Regions from separate parts of the Homo sapiens genome. Here region 1 is linked to region 2. Evidence: fine-mapped expression QTL. Tissue or cell type: whole blood. Region 2 holds a variant in brackets; the other region holds the start of a gene. All regions are shown on one strand. Distances are between the middles of the regions.

The links. PIP is the estimated chance that this variant, and not a neighbour inherited with it, causes the effect.
Region 1: it holds the start of ELMO1, and the variant in region 2 is fine-mapped to the expression of ELMO1 in whole blood (TOPMed, PIP 0.97).

What each region holds. Positions count from the first base shown.
Region 1 is chr7:37,446,836-37,451,835 of GRCh38, forward strand. ELMO1 (engulfment and cell motility 1) reads right to left here and starts at 2,029. Exons shown (of 22, transcript NM_014800.11): 1 at 1,840-2,029. RefSeq lists silencers at 1,669-1,718, 1,729-1,778.
Region 2 is chr7:36,855,350-36,861,563 of GRCh38, forward strand. ELMO1 (engulfment and cell motility 1) reads right to left here. Exons shown (of 22, transcript NM_014800.11): 22 at 1-402. The coding sequence ends at 202. Among named protein-coding and RNA genes, the nearest start is that of MIR1200, 61 kb to the right of the region's middle. The variant A/C (reference allele first, on the strand shown) is at 1,996.

The sequences.
Region 1 (5,000 bases), 590 kb after region 2:
CAAACAAAACAGAGTAGAAACAAGGCAGCATGCACATTTAACCACAGCCTTCCAGAGATAGGAAATGTACAATAATAAAGAGTAAAGCTTCAAAAGGTCAGCTATAAGAAAAATTAAAAATATGTGATGTTTCTGCAGGGGATCTGGCCTCCTAACTTACCATTATTTTCCCCCAGATCTGTAAATTATGGGACATTAATGCTTGAAACAACCTTGGAAAGTAGGCATGGAGGTGAGATAATATGAGAACCCTGGCCAGAGGAGACCCCAATAATAGCTGCTGCCGGTTTTTGCAATCTCAAAGTGATTCTGAGAAGGATTATATCCCTCTATGTCCCAAAGTTGCTCGCAGGGTTTTGGTGTGTAAATACAGGTCATTAATTACTTTTATAGAAGCAAAAGAGAAACACTCAGATATTCTTCCATAGCTTCATCCCCAAGTCACTGGCAGCGCCCAACAGGAAGCCTCCGCTTCTGGAGGCCTCAACCCGTCTTAGATTATCTGAAATCTTAACCATAACGAATTAGGCCCGAATCATTCAAGGCCAGCGGTGTTGGGAAGCCCATGATCCAGCGCGGGGGGCATCCCAAATATATTCACTGAGTCTCGGGAGCCGTCCAGGGACTCTCAGAGCTGGGTCACTACCTGGGACCAAGCCTGAGGCTGGTCCTTTAGGTCAAGGCAGGTCCCGACCCGCCTCCAACTTCAAATGGCCCCCTAGGCGGGAGAGGGTCACTGGGCGGGGAGTTCCTGGCTGTGCGGTCACACACACACACACCGACTCACACACACACCCACAACACCCCCCCCACACACACACACTCACACACACACCGACGACACACCACACACACATACATACGCGCGCGCGCACACACCACACACACACACACACACACACACACACACACACGCCGCCTCGCGCGCGCTCGCGGCACAGCACCGACTTCCCAACCCCAAACACACGCGCGCACCCCCGGGACAGCTGAGTTCTGTATTTCCTCTTCCTCAAAGCGACTCCGGCGATCGCAGTCGCCACTCTCCGCTCCGATTCCCGGGCCCCCTGGCATGCCGCCGCCCCCTTCTCTGAAGGCGCGCCCGGTGCGTCCCCTCTCCGAAGCCGAGATTTCCACGAAGCTCCACAAAGCTCCCCGCCGCCTCTCTCGGTCTCGGCGGAGACCCCGGTGTGTCCCCGGGAGGAGAGTATTTACTAACCAGAACCTCAGGGGCTCCCGGCTGCCCAGACCGCCCTCTCCGGCCCTCCTGGCCCCCATTCCTCTGGCCCATCACCGCCCCCTCCCACGAGCGCGCTCGCCGGGGGATTCCCTCCCATCCCCGAGTGCAGGAGAAGACGCCGAGTCTGAGCCGCAGCCGCTTCTCTAGCTCTATAGGAATCTTGACTCCAAGATCCCAGCCCCACATCCCCCGTCCCCAGTAACCCCGCGCCAGCGTCGCAACCCTCCCGCGCCCCCCCTCCCGCAGACCCTGGTCGAAATGTCTCGGCGGGCTCCCGGGCCCCGGGCCCTGCGCTTCATCCGCGGGCGCCGCACCTCCAGCGCCCCCTCCCTCCGCTCCCACTCCCACTCCCGCCATCCCCGGAGCTCAGACTTCCCCAACTGCAGAGCGCCCCGACGCGCCCGCAGCCCTCACCCTGCCGAGCGCGGCGGCCACCCCCGCCCGAGCCGCGGCGCCCCCAGGGAGGAAACAAAAGTGTCTCCGCGGCGCCCGGAGTCCCCCGGAGCAGGACGCCTCCTCCCGGCCCCAGTCCCGGCCCCCTCCCCTGCCGCGCCGAGGTCAGCGAGTCGGGGCGCGGCGCCAGCCCAGGAAACTTTACGAACCTGCTTGGGGTCGCAGGACAGCAGCGGCAAGGGTTCCCGGCGATCAGAGCTCCGGCGACCCGCCACCATTGAAGGGGAACTGGAGGCTCTGTCGCCCAGCGTGGGGCCGCGGCGGCGTGGGTGGCTCTGCCTCTATCCTGTGCCCATCCTCGCCCGCTCCCGCTCGCCCCAGCACACGCACTTACACTCTGGGTCGGCCGGCTGCTGCACCGCCGGCTGCCGCTGCTCTCACTTCCTCTTCCTTCCTCCTGCTGGCCAGAGACACATTTTGCATCTGCAAGGCATCCGGAGATCAGCCGCGAACTCTCCTCCCGAGCGGACGCTGCGGAGTTGCAGCCGCCGCCCCCGGCACCTGCGCCAGGACACTCGTGGTCTGCGCGTTCGCCTTGCGCCCGCACCCTGCCTGGTCCCTGCCCACTGCACTTTGCCTAGGGGGATGCCCACGACTTTTTGAAGTCCCCCTACTTAAAAGACAGAAATGTCAAACACCATGCATGCCTCAGATCTGCTATAAATAATATGTGTGCAGAGCATGACTTCGATGAGCTCACACACGGCGTTTGGAGGCACTAATTAACTCCGTCACCCTCATAGCGCCATCTCCGGGAGGCCAAAAGCGAGTAGCATCTTTTCACATCCTTTTTTAATTTTTGGCAACCGGTTCCGGATATTAAGGGGAAACTTCGGTGGGCTGTTTGAACGCTACTTTAAGACGTGTTTGTTTTGACGCTGTGCCTCTACCCTTGGACAGAGTGGCAAAAAAAAAAAAAAAAAGTTTCCTCCCTCTCCGTCGACATCTATGTATTTACTAACCCTGCAATTGAAACTACAAGATGTATTTCTAACCAATTAAGCCAGGGACTTCCTAATTTTGCATAACTTTGCATAAGGCAAGACGTTCCACCCATAATTTGATATTTAGAATAAATTACTTAATTCATGCAACCTACTTAAATCATTTTCAAAGCAGAAATCAAAAACGTTAACTCCCAGCCTAGCTGGCAGGAGGGAAGAGGGTTGCAGGCGAACCACCTGTCCTCCCCCAGTTCAGAAATACCTACATTGGCTCTACCGGAAAAGTCAAAGGCAGTTCGGCATTTTCTTCTAATTGGCAAAGGAAATAAGTCGGGGGCAGGGAGGCATCAGAATCAAGGTGGAAAACTAAGCTCCCTTTTAAGATCTTCCCCCTCAAGAGCCACAGGCAGCTGTTGAGCACTTGAAATGTGGCTATCCCTGAGATGTTCTGTAAGTGTAAAACAGACATACAATTCAGTATTTTTAAAATGAATGTAAACTAACTTGTTAAGTATGTTTATGTTGATTACATTATTGCAATACATGAGAATAGTCTGATGTAGTAAGTCAGTTGGATTCGTCATGTGTTGGGTTAAGATATAAGCATATATAAGATTAATTTCACCAGTTTCTTTTTACATTTTCTGATGTAGCTACTAGAAAATGTAAGGCTACACATAGGCTCTCATTAGTGGCTCACCTTATACTTTTAATGAACAGCTCTGATCTAACTCCTTATTATACGCATGACTCTGGGAGGCAGTATTAGTATCAAGAGTGCCTGGGTCCAGATGGTTATAAGCCAGTAACTAAAGCAGGGTGACTGCAGGAAAGCAACTTAACTTCTGTATTTCCTCATCTATAAAACAGTAATGATATAATAACAAAAGTCAATAGCACCAACTATTAAATGAAGTAATTTAATAAGTAGTCAGTAAATGGAGCCTTTACTAACGATGCTCTGAGACACTTGTAGTGATAAGTATGAATTTGATCTACAACCTTGTAGCTAAGGCATATAAAGACCTTAACTTTAGTGCATGCGTGGTGAGCACTCAGTAAACATTAGCTGTCATAATTGTTCCCTCCTTGCACAGCAATTATGCAAATCCACTCCCCTGTAACCTTTGGTCCCGGGTCTTCACATCTTTCCTCCATGAAGTAGTCTTTCAGATCTTTGAAGTCAGCCCTCAAATTTTACCTAAACACTCTCTTTTGAGGATTAACCATCCTCAATTATTCTGACTCTTCTTCATGTGACATGGCTTCAAGTCTCTCTCATTTGAGCCATCTTCTCCCAGAAGAATATCTGTCTCTGCCCTTTAAAAAAAAAAAAGAAAAAAGAAAAAAAGAAAAAAAAGTAGTCTTATAGATTAATTACGTAATTAACCATTAGCAAACACAATACAGCCTGAGATCTTCTCTCTCTCTCTCTTTTTTTTTTTTTCTCAAATACATCTCAGTGTTGATAGGAGTGCAAGGGGAAGACTGGAAATTCTTTACAGTGTTACGGTTAGGCCATGTGCGGGAACATGGAGTTGATCTTTGGAACCAAAGTTCCTGATCCACTTTCTCTAAGTCCCTTAGGATTTAATTCAGGCATCCAGTGTCTCCCCATATCCATGGATTACATTAAAATATTAAGATGCCACATGACATCCCACTAAGGAGCTCCCTCTGCTAAGCTGGGAGAATAGCATTCTTTGGTTCACTGGTTATTAATAAACTGCTTAACAGTGCAATTGCCAAACTTCAATTTTCTCTTCTATTCATAAAGACATCTTAGAAGTATTGTCAAGTGTCTTAGAGGAACCCGCCTTCTCCCTCAGCTCTGCTGGTGGTCAGCAATGGATGCAATAAAGTGGAATATGTGGTGTTGTCATGTATGTGGGCTCCATCTTTGGACCTGGTTGTTGTGTATAAATCCCACCATTACCATTTACTGGCTGCATTACTCTTAACTCATGAGATTGAAACCATGTCTGCCAGATACGGTTAAGTGAAGATTAAATGAGTTAATTCATGAAAAATTCTTAACAGGGCCTAACACATAGAAACACTCATTGAATGTTAGCTATTATTATCTACAATAGTTCTTCAATGGACAAGTCATATTAACAGACTCAAAAAATAAAAGAGCAACATCCACTCCCTCTTTTCACATGTCAGTCTCCACCCATAATGGTGAGAAAGATCTGTTGCCACTGTCCCTTCTCAGCTCCTGGTCACAGCTTGGGCCATTCAATCATTAGGTCATGCTTTAGCAGTGAGGACGGCCATTTTATAGCAAGGAACAGAATCCAAGTGCATCCCTTCACTTGCACTTCTGGTAAGCCCACCTGGGCAGAACTTAGACCTTTGTGCAG
Region 2 (6,214 bases):
CGAGGAACAGAATCAGGGCGGTGAGCAAGATGCCAGCTAGGGGCTGAAAGTTGCCAGGGCTAGAGGTGATGCTGAAGGGAATGTGGACCCACAGCTTCCCTTTACCAAAGGACGGTTCCAAGGCGTGGGTGTGTTTTCATTCCTCTCTCCTGTTAGCTAGGTGTTCCAGTTTTGGAAGGGGCATGTCTGGGCCCGGCCACTTCAGTTACAGTCATAGACGAAGTCATAGTTGCTGGGCTCCTTGGGAATCGGCGGAGGTGCGTCAGGGATCTGGATGTTTTCCAGGTCCAGGAGGCGGAGCTTGATTTCCATGCTGAGCAGGGTGTCCAGGTCATTCCGCGTCAGGTCGCTCATCATGTCCTTCCCGAGTAGCGCATTCAGTCCATCCGTCCAGATACAGTACTGGCAGGAAGGGAGGCAACAGCGATCATTACTGGTGGCAATTACAGAAGTATTAATAGTAAAAATAGCTAACAGTGAATACTCATCCCTCAGTAGGCTGTGCGCTAAGGGCTCTGCCTACTTCGTCATTTCATATTTGGCGACATCTCAATATAAAGTCGATACTTCTGTTATCTCTGTTTTATAGGTGAAGGAACTGAGGTACAGAGAAGTGACTCAGTATTATGTAGACCGGGTGGGATTTGAACCCAGGCAATCTGACTCCAGTGCCTGTGCTCTTCTTTGCAAAGAATGCTTCTCTGTAACAGCTGAGGATTGGAGTTCTCCATGACTTGCAATGTAACACCTAGGTGGGAGTCTATGACTTTTAGGTACTGGTGGAATCTACCGAACAGCCCTGGACTCAACATCAGGTGAAGCAGGTTTCTTTGCTGACTCCAGTCATGGCTCCTAGTCTAGTAGCTCATCTCGGCCTGTCCTGTCTGATCCTAGCATTCACAATGACAGCCCTGTCCCACCCTGGAGCCAATGGCCAATGGCAGTCCCACCTTGGTGTTTCTCAGCTAAAGGGCTAGGAAATAGGCTTATGCTGCCCAGTGTCTGGCAGCCAAAATGGTTAAAATTATTGGGCAATCTTAATGGGAGGAGGGTTGGCTGCCTGTCTGGGGACCTCTTTAGCCTTTGTCTCTAGTTCCTAAGGTTTCTTTTCACCAGGTCTCTGGGGCCTCATACTTGGGGATATTATCTGTTTTGGAAAGCCCTTCACAGTACCCAACTAAGAGTCTGATTCTTCTCCTTTCATAGCCTTTTGTCTCTCCAGGAGACTATGATCTCTGTGAGGGAGAAGGAAGAACTGTGCCTTGTCTGAGGACCTGCTTTTCTCTTCTTAGCTTCCCCTCCCAGAGGCTGGAGTTCTGTACTGACATGGACAGAGAACCATGACACCTGGTGAAAGAGGCACCCCTGATGCCAGCATCTCAGAAAGCTGCTTGGCATTCTGGATGCTGGGCTCCACTCATGCACTGGAGTTTAGGTTTCTAGTAGTCCTATATAGGATTCTATAACAGCAATTGTTCTCCTCTTCTGTTGAAGTGGTCTTCCTTCTACCATGCACTCCAGATTCCCAACTTTTCTGCCTCACTAGTTCAAGCGGCAATTCCAGACCCTCTTTAACCTACTTTGGCACTGTGGTTATCTGGACTGTATTCCATGGTAGCAGATCTCAACGTAAAAGTAACCAAAGTATACTGCAAGCACTATATAAATCTCCAGTCACCATGATGTGATGGAAATCTTCCGTGATGCACATCAGCGGTCCTCCTTTTTAAGCTGAGGAGATGCACAATGGGTGTATTATGAGATCTGTGTTTCAGGAGGGCAGCATTGATTTGGAGGGCTTTGGTTCTACCTTGGCTATGTGATCTCAGCCAAAGCATTTAACCCATCGAAACATCAATTTAGTGTTAAGGGATTTCCGGAAGAATTAGTGTCCTCATGATCTGATTCTGAACATGTCTAACCATCAATTTCTTCATAAATAACCTTGACAGAAGTAGACACCTAGCTCCTACCTTGGAGATCCTGATCATGTAG[A/C]TCTAGGGTGAGGAGACTTTGCTTCCTAGAAAACTCTAACGAACACGCAGGTACGGGTGCCACTGAACTCTACATTCTCAAAGGCCCCTTCCAGCTTTCATGCTGTTTCATGGTAAATCCCCAAGTCCTGGGGATTACTGTTCTTTTCACACAGCCTTCCCAGGCCTGGCTAGCTTCCTAGTATAGATTAGTTTAACCCACAGGAACACTTCTGCAGCACGTTTCTTTTTAGAAACAACAGGCACAGAAAATTTTATGTGAAAGTACATCGACCAATAAATAAAAACCCTGTAGTACTGATACTGAATTTGAGTTGGAACTATCAGTATCAATTCATTAGTTTATCTTAAAAGAAAACCACCTAGCTCTGTCCCCAAAAAGGGCTAAAAAATAATGACCAACCAAGAACCACTGCATCGTGGTGTGCAATGACCATAAACACAACTCATGCTTAGATTCTGGTCACTAAATATCATTTCCCACTACAAGTAATCAAGGCTTCACAGAGAAAAGGCAGGAAACATAAAGATAAACCTGGAACACTCCATCATACCAGAATGCCAGAAAGTTATCAAAGACGTAAGGGGTCCTCCCAATAGGACTCAGATGCCAACCCAATGGTGTTCCTACTTGTTCCAGACAGGATAACTTAGAAACTAATAACGACAGTAACTGCAACATATTGAGACACAATTCTGTTTAAAAGCATGATTTCCTACTCAACCCCTGCCCCCAAATGCCTCATTGTTCTTCTTTGAAAGATGCTTACTATTTTGAAAACTGGTAAAGAGAATCAAGTATTTATCCTGCCTACCATATGTAAATTGTATAACTTTAGGATAACCAAATAGTTGATGAGGCCAGTTTCTCTTTATATATCCCTTTAATAAAGAAGGAATAATAAAATTAGGATATCAACCTTTTGCAACCTCTAATGGTTCCAAGGATCCAGACAACGATCATTGTTGGCTGCTAATATCCAAGAAAGGGGAGCAAGAAGTCACCATGAAAGTACAAACACCACTGCTGCTGCTTAGAAAGGGAGCCTGAATTTGATTAATCCTTTAACTACAATTCACAAGACATACAGGGGACCGATGAATATATGAATTATATTGCAGATTGCGGTGGGAAAAATAATACCCGCCTTCCAAAGACACCCACATCCTACTCCCTGGATCCTGTGAATATGTCAGGTTCCATGGAAAAGGGACTTAAGGTTGCTATCCGCTGACCTTAAAACAGAGATTATCTTGGATTATCCAGGCAGGCCCAATGTAATCCCAAAGGTCCTTAAAAGTGAGAGAAGGAAACAGAAGAAGAGTCAGAGTCAGAGTCAGAGAAGTGAGAGGTAGAGGGAGATCTGAGTACGAAAGAGGAGGCTGAAGTGAGGTGATGAAAAGGTTCAACCAGCCATTGCAATGGATGGAGGCCAAGGAGTGCAGGTGGACTCTTGAGTGAAAAAGACAAGGGAAAATTCTTCCCTAGAGCCTCCAGAAAGGAACACAGCCCTGCTGATACCTTGATTTTAGCCCAGGATACTCACATTTGACTTCTGAAGTCCAGAATTCGAAGATAATAAATTTGTGTTCTTTAACACTAAGTTTGTGGCAGTTTGTTACAATAGCAACAGTAAGCTAATACATAAAGTTATAACCAGCACAGTCTAGACTATTAACATTACAGGTCTAATGACCTGTTTTTCCCAATAAATAAATTTCAAGGAAAAAAGGCACATGCTCATGATTGTGAGAGACAGAGAGAGAGAAAGAGAAACCTGTAGATTCAGAGAAACCTAGGAAACATGTCAACCAACTGCAATGCATGGATCTTATTTGCATTCTGACTTGAACAAAGTATGAAAGAAAAAAACACAAATGAGACAATTAGAGACATCTGAAAACTGACTGCACATGGTTTAATAAATAAATACCACATTATTAATTTATTTAAGTGTGATCAGGGTATTGCAGTTATGGTTTTAAATTGAGTCTTTATTGTTGGGAAATGCATACAGGAACATTTATACATAAAATGATATCCAGATTTGCTTCAAAATAATCAGGGGTGGCAGCTGGGTGATGGTGGAAGAGTGGATGGGAGCACAGGTGAACCAGATTGGCCATGAGTTGGTGATTGTAGAAACTGAGTGATGGGCCTGCCAGGAATGTGCGAGCTCAGTGTCTGCTCTTTCTCTTCCTAGCTCCACAGTGCAGGGGTTAAGTGTAGGGCTTCTGGAGCAAGACTGCCAGTGTTTAAATTCCAGCTCTGTCCTCTTACTACTTGTGTGACCCTGGACACGTTTCTTAAGCTCTCTTGCCTCATTTCCCTCTTTTAAATGGGGATTCTTTTAGAGTTATATGAGGGTTAACTGGGGTGAAATATACATATAAAGCATTAATGGTGCCTGGCAGAGAGTAAGCCAGGGTCGTTATACTTACAGTTGACCCTTGAACAACATGGGTTTTAACTGTGTGGGTCACTTATACATGGATTTTTTTCTTCAATAAAACTTATACCAAGTGTGCCTGTCTCTCCTGCTTCCCCTTCCACCTCTTCCACCTCTCTAGCCTCTGCCACCCCTGAGACCTCAAGACCAACCCGTCCTCTTCCTTCTCCCTCATCCTACTCAATGTGAAGACAATGAGGATGAAGACTTTTATGATGATCCTCTTCCACTTAATGAATAGTAAACATATTTTCTCTTCCTTATGACTTTCTTAACATTTTCTTTTCCCTAGCTTACCTTATTGGAAGAATACAGTATAAAATCCACATAACATACAAAATGTGTGTGAATCAACTGCTTATGCTATGGGGAAGGCTTCTTTCTGGTCAACAGTAGGCTACTGACAGTTAAGTTTTTGGGGAGTCAAAAGTTATGGGCAGATTTTCAACTGTGTGGGGGGTTTGGTGCCCATAACCCCCATGCTATTCAAGGGCCAACTGTGTTAACCTTTCTATTGTTGAGGTATTCAGTTCTGGGAGGTCTCTCCGTGCTCATTTGATAAATGAGAATGTCTGTAATAGAACTTTCTATTGTATGGAATAATTATGGAAATAAAATGAGGTAATAGAAGGAAAGTGGTCTGAAGTAATTAAAAGTGTTCACAAGCATATGGCATTTTTCTCTTCATTGTATCTATAAGAAGTGGCAGATATGAATAAAAATCTGGCAGTCCCAGAGCATTTATCCTGATCTGGAATTAATGTACACTGGGGAAAACAGCCTTGCAGAGATTTAAATAACATCCAAAGTTCTACTATTTTAAGTAGTTTTGTACACAGCTCTATACATCTTGAATATGGTGGCCTGTGTAGAACCACAATTTTATTTAAAAACAGAAACAGTAGAACACAGTATCTATTTTCAGAAAGATGAAGACAAAGTCTTACCCTTCAGCAAACTAAATGTCAAGTGACACAGAATTATATTTAAGCACCGTTCTAAATGCAGGATTTGTGTCTAATCTTTCCTCTCTCTTTGGGATATACAATTTTATTCAAAAGCTTCAAACCAGTGAAAACTAGATACTGAATAACTTCTAAATGAGCTAAATGTCCTAGGGGAAATGGGGAACAAAAGTCAGATTCTATTAAAATGTTCTCTTCCTTTCTAAAGCTGTTTATGCAACCACACGCAAAACAAAAATTTGAATGGTATCATCTAAAAATAAAAGTTTCAAGCATGATGTTGGGTTCCAGTTTATAAAAGAAAGTTAAATCAGCCATAACTGCTACTTTATCTTACAAATGCATTTTCCTAGATTTATGCTAAATATTTTAAATATAGCTGACAGCGTGCTACAAGAAGAGAAACAAATTATACATATAACAAGATGTCAGAAAGGAATAAAAGCATCTCGAAAATAAAATCCCAACAGCAGAGACAGCCCTAAACCTCTTAAAATAGCTTAAAGAAATTTGGTAGAAAACCTACTTCCTCAGATGTTTTAAAGAAGAGAGACCAGTTTATCTTGGGAAAATCCAGACCAAAAACGAAAAATTCAATGAAAACCAAAGCTGTAACCAGGGCCGCTTCTTTCTCTGGATTAACAAGTATACCTTTGCTGCATTTGAGGCCTTTTACATCCTTTTTCTTTACCATGAACTATCAATCAAGCTACTAAGAAGTTGAATCTGTTGCAACGGGCAGTTTGTCAAGAGGTTTCTATTCTCCTCCAAGTCAGCAAGATGCCCCTTGGTTCATCATTTTTTC